Linked DNA regions of Homo sapiens: region 1 is linked to region 2. A link means that fine-mapping ties the variant in region 2 to the expression of a gene that starts in the linked region. Tissue or cell type: whole blood. Region 2 holds a variant in brackets; the other region holds the start of a gene. All regions are shown on one strand. Distances are between the middles of the regions.

Region 1 (8,000 bases), 240 kb before region 2:
CTGAATAAAACAACACACTAAAGCCATTTGCCTCTTAAAAGATTCCCTGTGCCTAAGTATTCAGTTGGCAGTGACATCAACCTCACGGACTTTTAGTATCTATAAATAATACAATCCAACTTTTTTATTGAAAATTAGGAAAATGAAAATATTTATAAGCTCCAGTGTGGTAACTGATGGCCTTTAAGTGGCTACTGGTGGCTTTAAAAATTAAGATTCTAAAAAGAAAGGTCAACTCAAACAATTGACTCAGGATGAGATTCAAAACAAAATAAAGTAAGGAAAGAGACAAACATGTCTGATCTTTTATTTGAAATATAGGATGTTAGGTGCCAATTTTGATATTGCAAATGATTAATCAGTCTGAGAGTACAAATGCAAACATGGAAAGGCTGGGGTAAGTACAAATAATCTTAATCTTCTGATTTTTAAAGCTTTAGAAGTGTTTTTAATCTCCTTTCCTGGTTATTTTGGTTTAGCACTTTACACAAAAATCTTAAATTAATTGTTCATTTGTCTTAACTTATATGCCTAATAAAGCAGTTTAGGAGTGTTAATTGACAACTCTGAATGTTGATGTTTAAAACAATCTAGTTGAGAAGACAAGAATCAGATAATTATCATTCAGTCAATAGTAACTGAAATTCATCCTGTCCTGTGTGAAGGACCCTGCTACACTACCAAGTACTTTGGGGACACTTCAGAGTAAAGGTTGCTTATGAGTTTGCTTTGTGTGTGTGTGTGTGTGTGTGTGTGTGTGTGTGTGTGTCTGTGGTTTTTAAGGTTTTTTTTCTCCACGAACCATTTTGTAAAATCCAAGAGGGGATTTCATACTCACAAAAAGATAATTTTTTCCCTCTCTCTCTCTTATTGCCATAATCAAACTCACGCAGCAAAGGTGAAGAGAGACTAGCCGCTGGAGTAACATTACTACACATTTGATTCCAAACGCTTCAGGCAATTGTTTAACACTCGGTCAGGACGTGGAATACTCAATAGGGAAGCCTCGCGTCCACCCAAAGGCTCTACGAGCGTCTATGGTTCTTCCTTTTCAGACAGGATAACTCAACCTGCAGTTCTGAGAGAAATAGGGCGACGGATCTCAAACTTTCCTTTGCAAAGCCAGTTTCTGAAAATAACACGTTCCCCCATTGATAAGTGAAGATCAGTAGCCTCAAGAAAACAATACTTGGTAGGCACCTGGCCTTTCAGAATTGAAGGGGGAAGGAATGGCAAAGCAGTTAGCAGAAAACCCGGGTACTAGTAGCAAGATCCGGGAGACATCTAACCGGAAAGAAATAAAAAACCATTAGTTTCCCGAAGCCATTCTTATTCTGAACGCTGTTCGTTAAGAGAATCATTTACTAAAGCTCTCTTGTAGTAGCCTTTACAAAAGCTTTATTTCATTCAGTAAGAAAGCGCCCCGTCCCAAATCTAAATAAACCTTACATAGATGAGGCTCCGGAAATTATCAGCTTGATTCTTTATGAAGATAGTTAGAGGTGGATAAATCAATAGACTCGCTGAAACACCCACCTTCTGCAAACAGGCCTGAGAATTAACTAATCAGAAGTGGACAAAAAGTAGGGATTTCAGAAAGATGACCTGACACATCCCATTGATCTTCCCTGGAATGCGACCCCCAACTCCTTATTAAGAGTCCAAAATGGTTACCAGCCAGGATGGGTCTGGGTGAGGAATCGAATTACAACCCACTTCAATCCTCGACCTGGTCGTTTGCTGTTATTAGGAGAAATGGGGCAGAGAGGGAGGGCACCGCTCACGGAGCCTCATTTCGCATGCTCCGATCCCCTCTCGGCGTCCCTCTACTCCGCCCCTACCCTGACCGCCCGCGAGGGAGACGCCGGCCGATGGACCCGCATCTGCCCTCACCTCTCGCCTTCCCCGGGCGATCCCTCTACAGTCCCGGACCCCCGAGAAAGGGGAAGGGAGACGTGTGCACACGGGGGCTTCCGGGACCGCGGTCCTGCAGTTGCCGCTCCGGTCCCCAGCGCTGGCCGGCGACCCGAGGCGCGGCTCGCACCTACCTGCAGCCCCGCTTCCCGGTGGCGGCAACACCTAGCGATGCTCCTGCAGCTTTTGCGGGCCGGCGCCAGCCTTATCGCTCTCGCATCGCTTCCAAGATGCCAATCCGCCGTCACCATCCAGGGGCATAGGGAACCGAAGTCTGGTGCTGTGTGATCGTGGAGGGCGGCGTGTGAGTGTGGCCCTGAGCGTGCGAGTGTGCGCGCGCGTGTGTGGATGTGTTTCCTCCTCCGATGGCAAAGACGGTTCAGGAATCTGACATCCAAGCTGGAATCCCCCTGAAGCGGGTGAAGGTGAGCCTGATCCTTCTCCCCGCTTCTTTATTCCACAGTGTCAAAGTAATCAAAAGATTTGTTTACTGAGGAAAAGCCAAAGTCCCGCAGCCCTTGGCAGCGCCCGCGGTCGCCTCCTGTCCTCGCCGGATGCGCGCGGTGCGCTCAGCTCCCTGGACTGCAAGAATCAAGGCGGTCTTGCTGCAATTACCGCTCTTATTCCATCTCTGATTTGTTTGCTTTTAAGGCCGACTAAAGACTTTTCCTCTCGCCTCACGTCGTCTCTCCCTCTCACACACACACACACTCACACATCCTCCGTTCCCTCTCTCCCGCCCTCCCTCTTGTTCTCTGGGGAAAGGCAATTGGACAGAATGATTCACCTTCAGGAAAGCAGCCTCGGCCACGCACTTCTCGAGTTCCCTGGCTCTCGCAGGTACCGGGTCTCCAACGTGGCGGAGTTGCTGGGAAGCTCGGGACAGGAAGGAGGAGAGGCTCTGAGCTCAGCCGATGTCCCCCCTCCAGACGCCCGCGTTCCTCCGTCCAGGTGCCCCTGTTCCCACTGCTCGCAGATAGGTCCCCGCTGGTGCCCTCGCGGAGACTTGGCGCCTTCCACTCGAATCCACTTAGCAGCAACTCCTGGCCAGCTTCAGCCCCTCAATCCCGCCTCGAAGTGCTGCGGGCAGAGCCCCACGCAGCCCACCCGCTGCCCTTCTAGGCATCGTGGGCTGGAAGGAAGGGAAACCCGCCGATGTCCCCCTGGTAGCAGTGCCCTGGCACCGTCACCACCGAGGAGGTGCGAGTTCCAACATCGAACACAAGCGAGCAGGTGTCGCCTGTGTCACTTTGCTAAAGGCGGGAGGGGAGAAAGAAAGGAGCGGGGGGAGGGGGCCGAGGAAACAAATCCAGATCACCGGCGGAGAAAGAAGCCGTTTAGCAAGCAAAGCCTCCTCTCCGCGTCCCACCCCAGATGCTATACTGTCAAAAGACACTGATGCTAATCTTTTAGAAAGTCGCCATAAAGGGCAGAGCCCCTGCTCCACTCTAGAACCCTATTCCACCCAGCCTGGCTGTCCAGTGAGTACAGAGTGACTTGGCTCCCCCGTATAGTGCAGCGAGAATGCAGGAGAATAGGTCCTGACACTCCAGGTTGAGTTAAGCAGTAAAATGGAATGGCAGGGCCGGGCGGCGTTGCCTCGCCTCTCTCTCCCAACAGCCAGTTCTGTTAGCCCCAGCAACTGCCGTTGAGAGCAAACAACGGTCCTGCAGAAAAAGAACGAGACAGTAAAAGATGAGGAGGCAACTGGTATAAAAGCTGGACTATGTCTCCCTCTAGAGGGTCAACCGGATTAGAACGCTTTACTAGATGTAACAGACCAGTTTCTCTCCATAAAGAAAAAGAAAAAAATATCTGGTTTCAGATAATTTGCATTTTTACAAATTACAACTTCTCAAGGATTTAGACGGAGGATTTTCACTGCAGCCCTATTAAGCAAAGCCCTTGCTAAAGGAACGTCGTGATATTCATGACGCTGGAAGGTCATGTCCTTACATGTTTGGTCAAATTGGGTGTCGGTTTAAGCGCTGTGCATATGAGCTCAAATGAAGGGTCTTCTGAGGCTCACTTCGATCATGTTTGGAGATGAGCAAAACCTTAATCTAGTGATTAGAAGACTATTCAAAAATGAATAATTAGTAAGAATGAATTCAGAAAAAGAAAATCTGAAACAAAGAAAGGGAATGCTGACCCAGGAAATTTTACAAGTCCTTTACAAGGAAAGATAACTCAAGAATCTGGTTTTGGAGCCAGTTTTCATACCTCTTTTTCAACTAGACCAATAATGGTCAAGATAGCTAAATTCCTTCCAGCTCTAAAGGTCTGTGCTTTTATATAGCTGTGATTCACTGAAACCATTGACAAATTAGGTATCACAAGCTCTCTTCACCAGCTATAAAATAAAAGTAATACTACATACCATATTTACAAAGAAATATAGAATATGTGCTTCACTTAGCTATTTTATCTTAACATGCTTAGTAAATCAACCATATTTTGTATCTAAAATGCATCAAGTAATTTAATTATGTTGAGGTGGTCATTTTTATAAAAAATAGCTCCACCGATTTTATAAAGTTTTGTTACATCAGTCCAAATCAAGCTAGGTCCCATCTGTAACCTTAACATTTAGATTTTTGTGAACTTACTATTTGAGCTGGGGGTTTGCTTTCAAAATGTTTCTGTATGTTCAAAAATTGTAAAATGTGTATTAAAGTTATTATTAAACACCCTTCCATTCACTCTGAATTTCTGGAGCAGTTCTATTTTAACTTGATAATCTAAATTAGCACAGTCATAAAGAAAGAAAAGAATGTATTTTTTAAATAGCTGAGACTAGTTGAAATCATTTAAAACAAAGCACCAAAACTAAACAAGGCAAGTTTTACCGTAACTAATTGCTCTATGGCATATTTGACTTTGTCTAGTAGTATACAGCAATCATTTGTTTCCAAGGATCTCTCAGATAGTCTCTTTCAAAAGATTTATGCCATGTGATTAAATATTTCATTCCACTTACATAGTAACTTATATCCAGGAAAGCAACGTTTACATTTTAAAACACCTGGCACTGTTGCACTGCAAATCTTACAGTATTTTTTTGTCTGCTGTGTTCAATAGTGTGATGAAATTCAAGCAGGAATGACATTGGAAACTTGGACTCTGTACTAGAAAGAAGTCACTTACAAAATCACTTTAGAACATTGGCTTTCTTTTCACACACACACACACACACACACACATACAAAAAAACATAAAGCATACATTATAATCTTTCTACCTTCTAATTCATTAACTTTTTGTGGTTGTAATCTATAGTTTTGTCATCTTGTTAAAATTTTATTTGTATTGTTTAAGTGTGGGACATTTTCAGCCTTATTTTTCTAACTAAACCCACTGTGTTTTTACAATATATGAAAAAGTAAAGAGAACAGATATATAAATTAATTACAAAATAGAACAAAATTTCTTATCCAATGTCATATGATGCTGAAATTCTATCATAACCTCTGTGCTTTTTGTAAATAATTCCCAATAATTTTTAGATCAAGATATTCCTATTTCCAGCATCTCCTAGACAAAATAAAATCTTTTGCATTCTCTTCAAAGGAAACAAAGTAGTAAAGATTCTCCTAATTTAACAGAAATTTTTTGTTGATACTTCTTACCTTCTACAGGCATGCCTCAAAAATGTTGCAGGTTTGGTTCCAAACCACCACAAATATTGCAATAAAGTGAGTCACACAATTTTTTTGGTTTCTCAACACATGTGAAAGTTATGTTTACACCATACTGCAGTCCATTAGGTATGCAATAGCATTTTGTCTTAAAAATGTACATATCTTACCTTGAAAATGGTTTAATGCTTTTTTTAAAAAAAGTGTACTGATGATCTGAGCCTTCAGTGATTCCTAATCTCTTTGCTGATGGAGAGTCTTGTTTCAGTGTTGATGGCTGCTGATGGATCAGGGTAGTGGTTGCTGAAGGTTGGAATTGCTGTGGCGATTTCTTAAAATAAGACAATAATGAGGTTTGCTGTGTCAATTGACTCTTCCTTTCACAAAAGATTTCTCTGTAACATGCAATGCTGCTTGATAGCATTTTATCCACAGTAGAACTTCTTTCAAAATTGGAGTTAGTCCTCTCAACTCTGCCACTGCTTTATCAGTCAGGTTTATAAAATATTCAAAATCCTTTGTTGTCATTTCAACAATATTCACAGCATCTTCACCATGAGTAAATTCCATCTCAAAAAAAACTACTTTGCTCATCCACAGAAGCAACTCTTCTAGCATCTAGAATGGTGAATGATCTCCAGAAGCTTTTCAATTTACTTTGCCCAGATCCATCAGAGGAATCATTATCTATGACAGATGTAGCCTAGCAAAATATATTTCTTAAATAAGAAGACTTGAAAGGCAAAATTACTCCTTGACCTATGGGCTGCAGAACAGATGTTGTGTTAGCAGGCATGAAAACAACATGAACCTTCTTGTACATCTTCATCAGAGCTGTTGGATGACCAAATGTATTGTCAATAAGCAGTAGTATTTTGAAAGGAATCTTTTTGTGAAGCCAGTAGCTCTCAACAGTAGGCTTAAAATATTTAATAAAATATGCTGTAAACAAATGTGCTGCTATCAGGCTTTCTTTTTCCATTTATAAAACACAAGCAGAGTAGATTTATTATAATTCTTAAGGGCCATACGATTTTCAGAATAGCAAATGAGCATTGGCTCCAACTTAAAGTCACCAGCTGCATTATCCTCTAACAAGAGAGTCATCCTGTCCTTTGAAGCTTCGAAGCCAGGCACTGACTTCTCTCTAGCTGGGAAAGTCCCAGATGTCATCCTCTTCCAATATAAGGATGTTTATTTACATTGAAAATCTGTTGTTTAGTGTATCCACCTTCATCAATGATCTTAGCTAGATCTTCTGGATAACTTGCTGCAGCTTCTACCTAAGCACTTACTGCCTCACCTTTTACTCATGTATTATGGAGACAGCTTCTTTCTTTAAATCTCATGAACCAACCTCTGCTAGTTTCAAATTTTTCTTCTGAAGATTTTTTACCTTTCTTTCAGCCTTTATAGAATTGAAGAGAGTTAAGGCTTTGCTCTGGATTAGACCCTGGCTAAAAGGAATGTTGTGGCTGGTTTGATTTTCTATCTAGACCACCAAAGCTTTCTCTATGTCAGCAATAAGACTGTTTTGCTTCCTTATCATTGTGTGTTCACTGGAGCAGCACTTTTCATTTCCTTCTTGAACTTTTCCTTTGCATTCACAACTTGCCTAGCAGTTTGGCTCAAGAGGCCTAGTTCTCAGCTTTTGACATGCCTTCCTCCCTATTAAGCTTTTGATTTAAAGTGAGAGACATGAGACTCTTCCTTTCATTTGAACACTTACAGACCACTGTAGGGTTATATTAATGGGCCTAATTTCAATATTAGGTCAGGGAATAGGGAGACCCCAGGAGAGAGAGGGAGTTGGGGGAACAGCCAGTTGGTGAAACAGTCAGAACCACACAACATTTATTAATTAAGTTTGCCATCTTACATAGGCACAGTTCATTGCATCCTAAGACAATTATAATAGTAACATCAAAGACCAGTGATCACAGACCGCCATAACAGATACAAGAATAATACAAAAAGTCTGAAATATTGTGAGAATTACCAAAATCTAACACAGAGACATGAAGTGAGCACATGCTGCTGAAAAAATGGCACTGAGGGACTTATTCAACACAGGGTTACCACAAACCTTAAATTTGTAAAAATAAAAGAAAATAATAATAATAAATAAAAACAATATTTGCAAAGTGCAGCAAAGAAGGGGTCTCCAACCCCCAGGGACTGGTACCCTCCCTGTTAGTAACCCAGCCTCACAGCAGGGGTGAGCTGTGGGCAAATGAGCATTACCGCCTGAGCTCCATCTCCTGTCAGATCAGCTGCGGCATTAGATTCTCACAGGAGCCTGAACCCTATTGTAAACTGCACATGCAAGGGATCCAGGTTGTGCGCTCCTTATGAGAATCTAATGCCTGATGATCTGAGGTGGGATGGTTTCATCCCGAAATTATCCCCCACCAACTGTCCATTGAAAAAAATTGTCCTCCATGAAAC
Region 2 (8,269 bases):
AGAAATTAACCAAATTGAAGAACAGAGTAGGGAGAGAAGATTTAAAAAAAAAAAAAAAAAAAAAAAAAAAGAGCAATAAGAACCCATGGGACAATATCAAAAGACCTAACACATTATTTATATGACTTTGAATTTCTCATCAGAAGCGATGGAGTCCAAAAGAGAATGGAACACCTTTAAACTGTCAAGAGAGGAAAAGACTGTCAACTCAGAATTCTTTGTCCAGCAAAAATATCCCTCAGAATAAAAAGGAAATAAAGACATTCTCAGATGAAGGAAAATTGTGAGACTTCATCACCAGCAAATCAGCTCTAAAAAATACTTAAAGGAAATTACTCAGGCTAAAGGAAAATGACACCAGAAACTTAAAACTTGAAAAATGAAAGAAGAGCAATGAAAATTATCACAGTCTGAGTAAATATAATAATCTATTTTTCTCCCCTTAAGTTTTGAAAAATGTGTGTTACTGAGGAAAGCAAAATATGATTGGGAGGCAGTCTGCTACGGACCTCTTGTACTCCTACATGTCTTGCGGAGTGTGTAAAGATTGCAAGGCCCTAACAACTCTTTCAGCCAGGTCATTTCTCAGAGTTGTTTATGCAGCTGGTAATTATCAAAGGTGATGTAATATGTGCTCTCAGACAAAAAGCTGGCCTCTTTGTGGCTTGCCATAAAAGTGAAAGACTCCTTAATTTTTTTTTTTTTTTTTTTTTTTTGAGATGGAGTTTCACTCTTGTTGCCCAGGCTGGAGTGCAATGGCAAAATCTTGGCTCACTGCAACCTCCGCCTCCTGGGTTCAAGCAATTCTCCTGCCTCAGCCTCCCAAGTAGCTGGGATTATAGGCATGTGCCACCATGCCCAGCTAATTTTGTATTTTTAGTACAGATGGGACTCATTAATTTTGATGTTCCTTTCCTCTGGCCCCATAAACCCACTGTGCATGTTGGCTTCTTTAGGCCTTTTACATTACCTCATGGGTGTGGGGCTCAGGGAACCAGCACAAAATGCTGATTCTCTGGTTTCTGCCACTGGTGTGTGTGAATAAAAACATCGTTTGTCTCTGACACAGGATTCTAGTGTCTTCAGCATTCATGAAATTATAGCATGCTAACTTAATAAGCTTAAAATAGGGTAAAATAAATCTCCTCTCAAAATTATACCATTGCCTGGTAGGAATATTAATGTCTGTAAGTGTAATACATATGACAACTGTAAGATAAAGAGAGGAGGGTACAACAACCTGTGTGGTTGTAAGGTTTCTACCTTTTACTTAAGTAGTAAAATATTAACCTGAATAAAATGGGAAAGGTTAAGTAAGGTATGTATAATTTAAACTACAGAGAAGCCATTAAGACAAAAAAATCTAAAAGACATTGCCAAAAAGCTAATAAACTAAAAAGGAATAATAAAGTATTCAAATCATACTAAAGGATGCAAAAAAGGTGAAAGAATCAAAAAGCAGATAAGACAAGTAAACAAATCATGAATTGGGAGACTTAAACCCAATAATATCACTAATTACATTAAATGAAAATGATCTAAACACACTAATTAAAAGATAGAGATTGTTAGACTGGGTGACATCATATTCTGCCAAATATGCTGCCAAATAAAAGTACCACAAACTTAAGAGAGAAAAATAGCTTAAACAACAAAAATTTATTTTTCGTAATTCTGTAGAGAAGTCTGAAACCAGGTGTTGGCAGGTTTGGTTCCACCTGAGGTTTGTGAACGAGAGCCTGTTCTCCATGTCTTGCCTACCTTTTCTTCCTTGATGTTCCTTGGCTTGTTTGCATCATCCCAATTTCTGTCTATGTTCACATGACACTCTCCCTTTCTCTGGGTCTGTCTCCATTTTCCCCACTTTATAAGTACACCACTTTATTTATTCTTTTTCTTTGAAACAGGGTCTCACTCTGTCGCCATCTCAGCTGGAGTGCAATGGTGCCATCTCGGCTGGAGTCCAATGGTGCCATCTTGGCTCACTGCAACCTCTACTTCCCAGGTTCAGGCAATTCTCATGCCTCAGCCTCCCAAGTAGCTGTGACTACAGGTGCACACCACCATGCCAGGCAAATTTTTGTGTTTGTAGTGCAATCAATCTACAAGTTGTTGTTCAATGGATATTGACTTTTAGTAGTGCACGATGAAAAAGTTCTAGGGATGTGTTACATGTCAATGTGACTATAGTTACTTAAAAATGGTTAAGATGGTAAATTTTATTATGTTTTTTTGCCACAAATAAAAAACCTAATTCACTTATACAAACTTAGAGACAAATCATAGTATGTGTTTTTGTATCATTAGGAGTAACAATAAAGTTTACAAATTGATTTTTAAAAACTAATCACCCGTGAAAAAATCGTAAGATCATCTCAGTTGCAGAAAAAAAGCATTCAGCAGATTCAACACCTTTTGTTCAACAACTGTGTTGAGGTACAATTGATATATAAAAATCACATACATTTAATGCATACAATTTGATGAGTTTGGACATATGCACACATATGTGATACCACCACTACAATCAAAGTAATAGATAGATTTATCGCATCCTGAAGTTCCCTTGATTTTCTTTGTGGGTTTTTTTCTGGCGAGGTAGGGGGGCGCAGTAGGCAGTTAGAACACTTACCTAACTTTACCCTATTAACAAATTTTGAAGTGTACAATACTATATTGTTAATTATAGGTATAATGTTGTACAGCAGATATGTAGAACTTATGTATCTAGCATAACTAAAACTTTATATCCATTGAACAACGCCTATTTCCCCTACCCTTCATCCCCTGGCAACCATAATTGTAGTTGTAATTTCCATCAGTTGGAATATTATAAACACCTCATATAAGTGGAATCATGCAGTATTTGTCCTTGTATGTTGACTTATTCTCTTAGCCTAATGTCCTCAAGACTTATCCATGTGGTCGCAAATAGTAGGATTTCCTTATTCTATAAGGATGAACATTTTATTTATACGCAACATTTTATTGCATATATATTTTCTTTATCCACAATTTCTTTATCCATTCATCTGTTGATGTAAACTTGGGTTGTTTACATATCTTGACTGTTGTGGATAATGCTGCAGTGAACATAGGAATGCAGATGTCTCTTCAAAATCCTGATTTTAATTTTTTGGGCATATACTCAAAAGTGAAATTACTTTTGAGTGATTTCACTCAAAAGTAAAATTTCAAAAGTGAAATTTTATGGTACTTCTATTTTCGATTTTTTGAGGTACTTCTATATGATTTTCCATGACGGATGCAACATTTTACATTCCTACCAACAGTGTACAAGGGTTCTAATTTCTCCACATCCTTACCAGTATTTGTTATATATATATATTTTAAATAGACATCTTGGTAGGTGTGAGGTGATATCTCACTGTAGTTTTGATAAAGACTCCACAAAAAACCTGTTAGAATAGATAAATTCAGCCGGGCGCGGTGGCTCACGCCTGTAATCCCAGCACTTTGGGAGGCCGAGGCGGGCAGATCACAAGGTCAAGAGATTGAGACCATCCTGGCCGACATGGTGAAACCCTGTCTCTATTAAAAGTATAAAAATTAGCTGGGTGTGGTGGCAGGTGCCTGTAGTCCCAGCTACTCAGGAGGCTGAGGCAGGAGAATCGCTTGAACCCGGGAGGTGGAGGTTGCAGTGAGCTGAGATCACGCCATTGCACTCCAGCCTGGGCGACAGAGTGAGATGCCATCTCAAGAAAAAAAATTTAAAAAAAAATAGATAAATTCAGTAAAGTTGCTAGATATAAAATCAACATGCAAAAATAAATTGTGTTTCTATACACTAACAGTGAACCATTCAAAAAGAAAAGCAAACAAATCCACTTATAATAG[T/C]ATCAAAAAGAATAAAATACTTAGGAATAAACTTAACCAAGAAGGTTGAAGGTTGTATTAGTCAGTCAGTGTTTTCTAGGAGGGACAGAATGAATAGGATGTATCAATAGATAGGATAGATAGATAGATAGATAGATAGATAGATAGATAGATAGATGACAGATAGATAGATAGATGATAGATAGATAGAAGGAGATTTATTAGGGGAATTGGCTCACATAATAATGAAGGCTAAGAAGTCTCATGATAGGTTGTCTGTAAGCTGGAGAACCAGGGAAGTGTAAATATGTCTCAGTCCAAGTGTAAAGTCTTCAGAACTAGGGAAGATGATGGTGTAACTCTCAGTTCAAGGCTGAAGGACTGAAAACCTGAAGTGGGAGTGGGGTGGCTGGCATAAGCCCCAGAGTCCCAAGGCCAGATAATCTGAAGATCTGATGTCCAAGGGCAGGAGAAGAAGGGTGCCCCAGCTCTGAGAGAGAGAGAGAGAGAAAGAGAGAGAGAGAGAGACAGACAGACAGAGAGTTAGTTTACCTTTCCTCTGCCTTTTTTGTTCTATCCAGGCCCTCAGCTGATTGAGTGGTGCCCACTGACATTGGGTGAGAGTGGATTTTCCTTAATCAATGCATTCATTCAAATGTCAGTCTTTTCTGTAAACCCCTTAATAGACATACCCATAAATAATGCTTTACCAGGTGTCCGGACATCCCTTAATCCAGTCAAGTTGACACCTAAAATTAAGCATCACAGAGGTGAAAGACTTCTACACTGAAAACTATAAAACATTGATGAAATAAACTAAAGGAGACACAAATAAATGGAAAGATACACTATATTCATGAATTTGAAGACTTCACATTGTTTAAATGCCAATACTATCCAAAGTCATCTACATATTCAAAGCTATGCTCATCAAAATCCGAAAGGCATTTTTTTTTACAGAAATAGCAATAACAGTTCCAAAATTCATATAGAACTATAAAAAACTCAGAATAGCCAAAGCAATCTTGGAAAAGAAGAACAAAGTTGGAAGCATCACACTTCGTGATTTCAAAATAGATTACAAAGCTACAGTAACTAAAACACTATGGTGCTGGCATAAAAATAGACATATAGATTAATGAAATAGGATAGAAAGCCCAGAAATAAATCCATACATATACCACCAACATGTCCTTGACAAGGGTGCCAAGAACATACAATGGGTGAAAAGAGAGTCTCTTCAACAAATAATGCTGAAAAATTGGATATCTACATGCAAAAGAATGAAATTATACCTTTATCATACACTGTACACAACAAAGCAGTTCAAAATGGGTGAAAGACTTAAACATATGACCTGACACTGTAAACTTCCCAGAATAAAAATGGGGGAAATCCTCATGACATTGGTCTTGGCGATGATTGTTTCCATATGACACGAAAAGCACAGGCAGCAAAAGCAAAAATAGACAAGCAGGGCTCATCAAACTAAAAAGCTTCTGCACAGTAAAGGAAATAATCAACAGAATGAAAAAGCAACCTATGGAATGGGAGAAAATACATGTAAGCCACGTATCTGTTAAGGGGTTAATTTCTAAAATATAATGAACTCCTACAACTCAATAGCAAAACAAAACAAAATAACACAATTTAAAAATGGGCAAAGGACTTGAAAAGACATTTCTTTAAAGAAGACATACACATGGCCAAGGGGTATGTGAAAAGATGCTCAACAACAATATCTTTTATGAATAAAACTCAGTGAACTGAGATTAAGAAGGCTCTTCCCCAATCAGATAAAGGGAATCTATGGAAAACCTATAGCTAACATCATACTTCATGGTGAAATACTGAATGCTTTCCCTCTAAATGAGGCAACATGCAAAAATATATGCTTTCACAACTTTTATTCAACATTGTACTACAGGTCTTAAATAGGTAAGAAAAAGAAAAGTCCTAAAGATTGTAAAGGAAACTAAAATTGCATTTATCCCGGCTTTGAGCAATTTGAGCATTATGTACCTTAGTGTCATTTTCTTCATGTTTCATGTGCTTGGAGTTTGTCATTCTTGATCTGTGGGTTTAGTTGTTTCATCAAATTTAGAAAATTTTCAGCCATTATTTCTTTAAATATTTGTTGTATTCCTCTCTTATTCTTTGAAGAATCTGATTATACATTTATTAGTCCCTAGAAGTTGTCCCACAGTTCACTGAAGATGCTTTCATCTTTTGAAATTCATTTTTAATGTTTCAATTTGGTTAATTTTTATTGCAATATACTGCAAAACAAATTCACTTATTTTTGTTCACTAATCTTTTATTCTGTCTAATCTGATTTTCCCATATATTGTATTTTTATCTTATACTTTGCATTTTTCTTACCTCCAAGTTCATTTGAGTGTCTTTTATATTTTCCATGTTCCTGACTTGGGTATATGGGATATAATTTTATTATTTTAATATCCTTGTCTGCTAATTGTAATGTCTGTATCAGTTCTGAATTCATTTTAATGGTTTAATTATTCTCCCAGTTATGGATCATGTTTTCCTGCCACTTTGCATGCCTGGTAATTTTTATTGGAAACCAGACACTGTGAATTTTAGCTTATTGGGTATTGGATATTTGCCTGTATTCCAATAAATACTATTGAGCTTTATTCTGGTATGCAGTTAAATTACCTAGAAGCTGTTTCAGATCTTGTTTTTATGATTTGTTTGACAGGTTCATAGGAATGCTCAGTTAGAGCTAATTTTTCCCCACTACTGAAGCAAGGCTCTGCTGACTATTTTACCCAACGTCACATGCTTTAAGTTTTTCACTATGGCTGGTGCAAACAGGAACCAAGCCATATATCTGATAAGGGGTTAATTTCTAAAATATAATAAACTCCTACAACTCAATAGCAAAAAATGAAACAAAACAAAATAACACAATTTTAAAATGGGCAAAGGGCTTGAAAAGACATTTCTCCAAAAAAGACATTCTACCCAATGTCACATGCTTTGAGTTCCCAGCCCCAAGTGAATGCCAGTCACGGTTTCCTTTACTCTTTCGGGATGATTTTTTCTTCCAGACTCAACTTCTTTTCTCACACTTATGCCCTGACCAGTACCCTGAAGGGTGTATCCTCAGCAGATCTGCTCTTTGTGAAGAAAATCTCCACTCCAAGCACTCTGCCCTGCAAGCTTGAGGTACCTTGGTTTCCTTGGACTATCAACTACATCTCTCAACCCAGGATGTTCACTACACTCCATCCCATTTCTCTTTCTCTGCACTATAGCCTGCAAACTCTCAAGGCAGTAAGCTGAGGAAATCATAGAGCCCTACTACTTACTTCCCATCTCTCAGTGATGACTGTCTTTTGTTGACTGATGCCCAATATTATGAGAAATGCTATTTCATATATTTTATCTGGTTTATTTTTGGTTGTTTTTGGCAAGAGTGTAAATCCAGTCCCTGTTACTCCATCTTGGATTGAAATAGAAATCTAGACTTCTTTATGTAAGAGAAAAAAAAAATCCTGATTTAATTCAGTGTTATTTGAGTATTCTGTAATATACAGACAAACCTAATCCTAACTCCTAACACTGAGTACTTGGATGAGGGGATTAAAGAAAGAAGTCTTCAGGCACCTCATGAGGCCAACTCTGTGGATTTGTGTCCAAATCTCCATCAATGAAAGTAATTTCTATGTCTCTTTTCCACAAGACTCCGGGGCATGTGAAGAGGACATTTTGAGACTGAGGGTATATACTGGGTGATCAGTTCAATTAGTGATGCCATTAACTGAGGAAGAAATACCTCCTAGAGCTGATTCAGGCATCCTAATAGTATATATATTCAAAAAGGTACAAAATTATACACAGAGCATCACTAAATACGTGGGTCTGAAGGTATTTTATATATGAATAAATAACATCACTATATTCAACCAATATTTCCTCTTGTTAAAGATGACATGCCCATAGATTTATTTACATTTTATTTTCTTTTTTAAAAGGAAAGGCTGGGCATGGTGGCTCACACCTGTAATCCCAGCACCTTTGGAAGTGGAGGCAGGTGGATCATCTGAGGTCAGGAGTTCAACACCAGCCTGGCCAACATGGTGAAACCCCGTCTCTACCAAAAAAAATACAAAAATTAGCCAGGCGTGGTGGTGCGCCCCTGTAATCCCAGCTACTCAGGGGGCTAAGGTATGAGAATTGCTTGAACCCGGGAGGTGGAGGTTGCAGTGAGCCAAGATCACGCCACTGCATTCCAGCCTGGGCGGCAGAGTGAGACCCTGTCTAAACAAAACAAAACAAAACAAAACAAAGAAAACTTCTCAAAGCACTTGTAAATAGTATTTGAAGGCATCACACTAGTGCAGAAGCATCTTCTGTTTGGTCAGTTAGTGGTTATTATAATCCTTCATCTCAAGATATGTAACTC

The links. PIP is the estimated chance that this variant, and not a neighbour inherited with it, causes the effect.
Region 1: it holds the start of TAFA2, and the variant in region 2 is fine-mapped to the expression of TAFA2 in whole blood (INTERVAL, PIP above 0.99).

Annotation. Positions count from the first base shown.
Region 1 is chr12:62,189,211-62,197,210 of GRCh38, forward strand. TAFA2 (TAFA chemokine like family member 2) reads right to left here and starts at 3,563. Exons shown (of 5, transcript NM_178539.5): 1 at 2,049-3,563. RefSeq lists an enhancer at 2,955-3,488 and a silencer at 4,858-5,152.
Region 2 is chr12:62,425,687-62,433,955 of GRCh38, forward strand. No RefSeq gene overlaps it. Among named protein-coding and RNA genes, the nearest start is that of MON2, 37 kb to the right of the region's middle. The variant T/C (reference allele first, on the strand shown) is at 3,859.